Homo sapiens: one gene and its partner. The protein of the gene in region 2 interacts with the protein of the main gene of each other region in a pairwise test. Each region holds a gene or a part of one and is shown on either strand. Other genes may lie near its edges. The genes, in order: ZNF177 and SLC37A3.

Region 1 (3,825 bases), on a different chromosome or scaffold from region 2:
GACCTGATGTATGGCTTGGTGACTATAGTTAATGATGTACTGTATATTTGAAATTTTCCAAGAGAGTGCATCTTACAAAAGTAAGTGAGGGGATGGATATGTTAATTAGCTTGACTGTGATGATCATTTCAGAATGGACAGGTAGATCAAAACATTATGTTGTACACCTTAAACATATATAATTTTTATTATTTGTCAATTATACCTCAAGAAAGCTGGAAAACCATGCTTCAGAAAAACAAAACTGGCAGGGTGTGGTGGCTCACGCCTGTCATCTCAGCACTTTGGGAGGCCAAGGTGGGTGGATTGCTTGAGGTCAGGAGGTTCAAGACCAGCCTGAACAACATGGTGAAACCCTTTCTCTATTAAAAATACAAAAATTAGCCAGGTGTGGTGGCAGGTGCCTGTAATCCCAGCTACTCGGGAGGGGAGGCAGGAGAATTGCTTGAACCTGGGAGGCAGAAGTTGCAGTGAGCTGAGGTCATGCCACTGCACCTCAGCCTGGGAGACAGAGCAAGACTCCATCTCAAAAAAAAAAAAAAAAAAAAAAAAGGAAAAGAAAGCTCAATGATGAAAGGAAGCAAGGGAGAGAACAGATGTAATAAGAATGGCAAAATGGTGACAATCATTGAAGCTGGGTGGTAGGTACATAGTGGCTTTATAGCACTCTATTCCTAGGTATGACTGAAAATCCACAGTGAACAGTTTTTTAAAAAGAAAGTAAAATTTCCATATGAAAGCGTGAAGCAAGGAACTGTACCCATCAGGTATAATAAAAAGCAAATCTCTCTTGAGGATCTGTATACACAAGTGCTCTCTTTTAGATTTCAGTCCAAATTCATTTCTGTAGTTCAAACAACCTCAAGGGAATAATTTCACTTAAAGAGGGTCCTAAGTGGCATTGTCCCCAAGCAACTAGTGCAAGCAAATCGACCTATCTCTGGAAAATCAACTTTAAGTCAGGTCTTGAGAAAAAATCTTATATACAAAGTTCTAAGTAAATTGAGGAAGGCACAGTTTAAGAAATTGTGAAACACAAATACACAATGTACCATGTGTAAGACATAGCTAACACACAGGTGTCAGGTGGTAAAAAGCATAACACTTTGGATATTACCCTTTTAGATATATTTTAAAATATATAAAAGCTTAATAAAAATTTGAATGGATATAGATTAAGATACTATAAAATGGTTAGTTTAAAAAACAATTTTTAGAAATGAAAAATAAACTCACTGAAATGAGAAATTCAGTGCCAGTATTAACTACCAGATCAGAACTTTGATCGCACTATTAGATGAAAACCTAGCAATTTTCTTGAATTAGTGAAAGACACTAACCTTTGGGTACTAGAAGTATCATAAGCCCCCAAGCTGAATACATAAAAAGAAATCCACATCTAATTTCATTATAGATTTTTCTTCCTTGGTATTTGATTTTTTCCCATAATTTCCAAAGCAGCCAGGGGAAAAACACAGGTCACCTATAAAAGGAAAAACAGACTGATAGCTGACATCTCAACAGCAACAATGGACGTCAGAAGAAAGCAGGACAATGTCTTCAGTATGCTGAGAAAAAAATAACTTATCAACCTAAAACGCTAGACAAACTATCTAACTACTCTTTATAAGAAATACAAAGATAACCAGGTTAAGCAATGAAAACAAACCAGTCAGCAAAATCCATATATGATGTGGGACATTTTAAGAACAAATAACTTTATTTCTTCAATAAATCAGTGGATTAAAAAAATGAAAAGGGAGGAGGAAGAGAACAGACACAATAGAAACTTAAGGGGTCTAAAATAAAAAAAAAATGTTGGGACCCTGTTAAGATTCTCATTTGAACAAACCAAATGTAAAAAGATATTCTGTAGCCAATCAGGGAACGTCAGACTTTGTTAGGTGGGATAATGGAGTAGTGGTGATGAACCAACTAGAGATGCACAGTTAGTAATATACTGATGAAATGACAGGATGTCTGGAATTTGCTTTAAAAACAAATCTGGGGGGAAAACCCAGCATTATTCAATATTTATTTGCAGTATCTAATACAGTAACCACTAATCATGTACGGATAGCTACTGAATACTTGAAATGAGCATTTAAACTTCAATAGCCACATGAGGCTAGTGGCTACTGTATTGGACAGCTCAGCGCTAGATGATGCAAGATGTGCAAAATATTGGTAACTGTCAAAGCTGGGTGTTAAGGACATGAGAATTCATTATACAGTCAGCCCTCTGTATCTGTTGGCTACTCGACCACAGATCAAAAATATGTGGAAAAAAGATGAATGCTTGTGTCTGTACTGAACATGTAGACCTTCCCCCTTGTCATTATTCCTTAAACAATACAGCATAACTATTTATGGCCCGGCACAGTGGCTCACACCAGTAATCCCAGCACTTTGGAAAGCTGGGGCAGGAGGATGCCTTGAAGCCAGGAGTTTGAGACTAGCCTGGGCAATAAAGCAGCACCCTGTCTCTACAAAAATATGTATCTATTTTAAATTATCCAGGCGTGGTGGCGCATGCCTGTGGTCCCAGCTACTAGGGAGGCTGAGGTGGGAGGATTACTTGAGTCCAGGAGTTTCAGGCTGCAGTGAGCTATGATCACACCACTGTACTCCAGCCTGAGCAACAGAATGAGACCCCATCTCTTAAAAAAAAAACAAAAAAAAAACAAACCAACCACTTACATAACACTTATTGTACTAGGTACTGTAAGTAATCTAGTGATGACTTAAAGTAAATGGGAGGGAAAAAATAGCATCTATGGGAGGATGTGTGTAGGTTCTATGCAAATACAATGCTATTTTATATAAGGAATTTGTGACTGTGGAATTTGGAAGCCATGTGGGGGTCCTGGAACCAGTCCCCCATGGATATGAGAGACAACTGTACTATTCTACTTTTGTGGAGAATTAAAAATTTTCATGATTAAAAGCTTAAGAAAAATAAATGGAGAGTCAAATAAAGGCATTTTAAAATAAAGACCTGAGACAACTTACCCATCCAAAAAGACCATCACAGAAGTAACTTAAAAGTACTTCAGGAGATAGGAACTGGAAGACCCAAAATGTTAAGTAGAATGAACAAAGGTAAAATGGATAAAATTAAGCAAACCTTTATTATATAAAATGGTAATAATACCAAATTCGTGACATGGAAAAATAAGCTCAATCCTAATACTAAATAATATATAAATTGGGAAGGAGGTGATTGAGTAGTATGTTCCTTGTATTCTTCCACTGGGGACTCACAATATTGATTAGGTTTAGACTGTAAGTATGCATGATAAAATAGCTAGGGTAACAATTCAAAGGATGGACATAGTGAGTTTAACTCACAGTCTAGAAGAGAAAATGGAATTAGGTTAAAAAAAAATCTCAATTCCAAAGGTAAGAAAAATAAGGGAAATGAAACAAAAAAAATAGGTCAAATGAAAAGCACAATGTAAAATGTAAGATGGTAAAAAATGTCTGACTGTATCAATAACAGTAAGTGTACAGATGGGCTAAATTCTGCAGTTTAAAAACAGACTGTCCTGGTAGATTAAGATAAACTAGCTCTATGTTATTTCATTAGATGCACTAAAATCCACAACAACACATAAAAATTGAGTCTCAAAAATAAGAAAGATATACCAGGTGAATATTAACCAAAATAAAGTTTGTTTGCTAAATTAATTTCATAGATTTTGAGACAAAAGGCACTATTAGAGGTAATGACATGAGGATGTAAAGTACCAATTAGGAAGATATAAAATTCTAGTCTCATAAAACTTATAAAGCAGAAGCTAGCACAATTAAAGGATAAATAAC
Region 2 (3,825 bases):
CTCCCAAAGTGCTGGGATAACAGGCATGAGCCACCGCGCCCGGCCCCCAGTTTTCAATCTTTCGGGAAATACCTAGGAGTGCTGGGTCATATGGTAATTCTATTTAAATTTTTTGGAAGAAGCACCAAAGTATTTTTCACAGAAGCTGCATCATTTTGCATTCCCACCAGCAATGCAGGGCTCCAATTTCTGCACATCCTTGCCAGCACCAGTCACCTTTCCTGTTTGTTTTTTTTTTTGAGATGGAGTCTCACTCTGTCACCCAGGCTGGAGTGCAGTGGCACAATCTCAGCTCACTGCAAGCTCCACCTCCCGGGTTCACGCCATTCTCCTGCCTCAGCCTCCCAAGTAGCTGGGACCACAGGCACCCGCCACAACGCCCAGCCAATTTTTCTTGTATTTTTAGTAGAGACGGGGTTTCACCGTGTTAGCCAGGAGGGTCTCCATCTCCTGACCTCGTGATCCGCCCGCCTCGGCCTCCCAGAGTGCTGGGATTACAGGCTTAAGCCACCGCGCCCGGCCCTTTCCTGTTTTTTAATTACAGCCATCGTAGTAAGCATGAAGTCACAGCTCACTGTGTTTTTGATTTGCATTTTCCCAATGACTAAGGATGCTGAGACTCTTCATGTGCTTATTGGTCATTTGTACATATTTGTCATGAAGATTTGTCCCTGTTTTCTTCTATGAGTTTCATAATTTTAAGTTCTTCAAGTTAGGCCTTTAATCCATTTTGAGGTAATTTTTGCATATGAGGTAAGGTTAGGGTCCAACCTCATTCTTTTTTTTTTTTTTCTTTCCTCTCCCACTCCTCAGCTCCAACTTCATTCTTTTCACGTGGATATCCAGTTTTCCCAATACTATTTATTGAGAGACCATCCTTTCCCCATTGAATGGTCCTGGCACCCTTGTCAAAAATCAATTTGGCCGCAGACACAAAAGGGTAGCATTCTTCAATCACATTATTACTGAAATGTACAAGTGAAAAAAATTAATGCAGAACGACTATGTGATTTATATTAGATCACATCATGTGTAGCAAAAAAGCAGAGGTCTCATCATCCACTACAGGAAGCATGGGGGGCTCCAAACTGACTGCAACTTTGTCTTTTTTTTTTTTTTTAGACAGGGTCTTGTCCAGGCAAGTGGCTCATGCCTGTAATCCTAGCACTTTGGGAGGCTGAGGCAGGAGGATCACTTGAGCCCAGGAGTTTGAGACCAGTCTGGGCAATGTGGTGAAACCCTGTCTCTACAAAAAAAATACAAAAATTAGCTGGGCATGGTGGTGGGTACCTGCAGTCCAAGCTACTTGGGAGGCTGCAGTGGGAAAATTGCTTGAGTCCCAGAAGGCAGAGGTTGCAGTGAGCCAAGATCCTGCCACTGCACTCCAGCCTGGGCATAAGAGCCAGATGCTGTCTCAAAAAAAAAAAATAGAGAGAGAGAGCCAGGGTCTGGCTCTGTCACCCAGGCTGGACTGGAGTGGTGTGATCATGGCTCACTGCAGCCTTGACTTCCCAGGCTCAAGCGATCCTCCTGTCTCAGCCTCCTAAGTAGTTGGGACAGGCACATACCACCATGCTCAGCTAACTTTTTATTTTTTGTAGAGATGAGGGTCTCACTATGTTGCTTGGGCTGGTCTTGAACTCTTGGCCTCAAGTAATTCTCCTGCCTTGGCCTCCCGAAGTGCTGGGATTACTGGCATGAGCCACCACACCTAGCCTCATGTACAAGTTTTAATGTGGACATTTGTTCTCATTTCTCTTGGGCAGATACTGCAATTTAATCTTACTGAACCCCTAGTATGTGTCAACAAAAGCACTAAGCATTGGGAATACAAAGACGAAGGAAACAAGCAGAGCACCTGTCACGGTGCATCACCTTTACACCGTGACAGGTGCCTACTACAGAACCGCATCAACTGCTATGGCAACCTGAAGAAGAAACAATTCTTTACTTGGGAAGTCAGGGAAAGACGGGGTAACAAAGTTATTCAGGGTAAATTAGTACACTGGCTAAGGACAGAGCTGATAGAGGTTAACGCTAAGTCACAGAGTTTGGGATTTCACCCCTTAGGCAATGGGAAATCATTCAAAACTCAACATGGAAGAGGAATGAGTAAAGCTAACAGTGATTTACTCCAGACGTGCTTCCCCAACCATGAAGGTCAGTCTAGGACCCAAGTTCACAGTGAGGGATCTGGATACTGGCAGGTGAGGCAATCTGAATAAAAGCAAATTCTCTGAAATACTCATTATAATGCACCCATTTAGTTAGTGAAGAAAACATTCGTAAGGAAGGATAACTTAAAATAATATAATGTCAGAAAAGGATGCCCAATGCAGCCACTCTCTACCCCATAGGTGAAGACGTCTGAACTGATGGCTGGGAGCATTTTTCGATTCCCGCTCCAGGGCATGATCAGGTAAGCGTATTTTTCAAGGCTTTGCTAAGGTTTTTGTTTCTTTGGGGTTTTTTGCCCTTTAGTCTTATAATCAAATATGCCAAGCATATCAGTCATTCATTCCACAAGTAATGTCTACTGTGTGCCAGGCACTGTTCTAGGTACTAAGGTGACAGAAGAACATACAACAAAATGCTGCGCTCAGGAAGCTTATGTTACAGTGGGAGAGACAGACATTAACAAGTGCATATAGACTATTAAAATACGGCTAGGTAGTCAAAGTATTAACATGGCTTACTTTACCTCAATACTTATCTCTCATTAACCACTAGCAATCAGACATCAGCAATTCACCCCCATCAAGCAAGTAACAATAATCTTCAAGGTTATTAATGACCTCCTAGATGTCAAAACTAAGAGCCTAAAAGACAAATCCTTCAGTTCTCTTTCTCCTGACCTCTCTACATCCATGACCTTACTAACGCCTTCTCAAACGCAGTTCCCTTGACTACAGGTTACTCTGCTGCCTTCCTCTTTCTTTGACCACTGGGCATTCCCTGAGACTCGGCCAACATTCTCTTTCCCTATTAAATGTTTCATTCACTTCCACAGGTTCAACTATTTTTATCCATACAGATGACTCTCAGATCCATCTTTCTACAAAATTAGTACTCTACAATCTGTAGTGGTATATCCTAGAAGAGGCATGACTCATGACTCTGCCAGAAAAGAAATATCTGTCCCAGAGAAAGTTGAATTTATGCAAAAAAAAAAAAGGTCAATGTAAATAATTCTAAGTATAGTAGGCCAATCTTAGTGTAGGGATCTCAAACATCTGAGTGTGGAAGAATCACCAAGAAGCCTTGTTGAAAATACAGATCTGTAGGTTCGAACTCAGCAAGTCTGTAGTATGCTTGGTGTTCTGTACTTTAATGAGTGTCCCAGATGATTCTGATACCAGACACTTATGGGCCACTCTTTGAGATACAGTCAGAGATTTTTGGATACACAGGAAGCAGAGCGAGTGATTCAGAAGCAGCTGCAGAGTCCATGGCCATGTCTGGCGGGGCCCAGGAAGGAACGTGTATGCAGTAGAGTGTCTGGGAGAGGGAGACGGGAGACAGCAATGGTGGGGTCCACATGCCAGGTGGGGATAACAAGAAGCACCCCCCACCACGGAATACCAAGTTCAGCCTGGAAAGAAAGAAGGGGATGGTGGGCTGGGGCAGAAGGATCTGTCTGTCTTACGAGGTCTTAGCTTATTTGCAGACAGGAAGAATCTAGAAGTATAAGTAGAAAAAAGGAACTAAAAACAATGGAGAGTCCTTCTACATTAGGACGCATCAGCTGGTCCTGAGGGGAGACGGAAGTCCTTGGGCTCTGGGAACAGCGTTCTACAGCACAAGAGTGCCACCTACTGAGGCCCA

What was found.
Region 1: the proteins of SLC37A3 (region 2) and ZNF177 interact in a two-hybrid assay, tested with the Homo sapiens proteins (one large-scale study listed by BioGRID and IntAct).

The regions. Positions count from the first base shown.
Region 1 is NC_000019.10:9,369,268-9,373,092, reverse strand, and holds part of ZNF177 (zinc finger protein 177), read right to left. Parts: intron 1,484-3,825; exon of another isoform or gene 1,341-1,483; intron 1-1,340. UniProt on the Homo sapiens protein: May be involved in transcriptional regulation.
Region 2 is NC_000007.14:140,339,516-140,343,340, forward strand, and holds part of SLC37A3 (sugar phosphate exchanger 3), read right to left. Parts: intron 1-3,825. UniProt on the Homo sapiens protein: Unlike the other SLC37 members, lacks glucose-6-phosphate antiporter activity.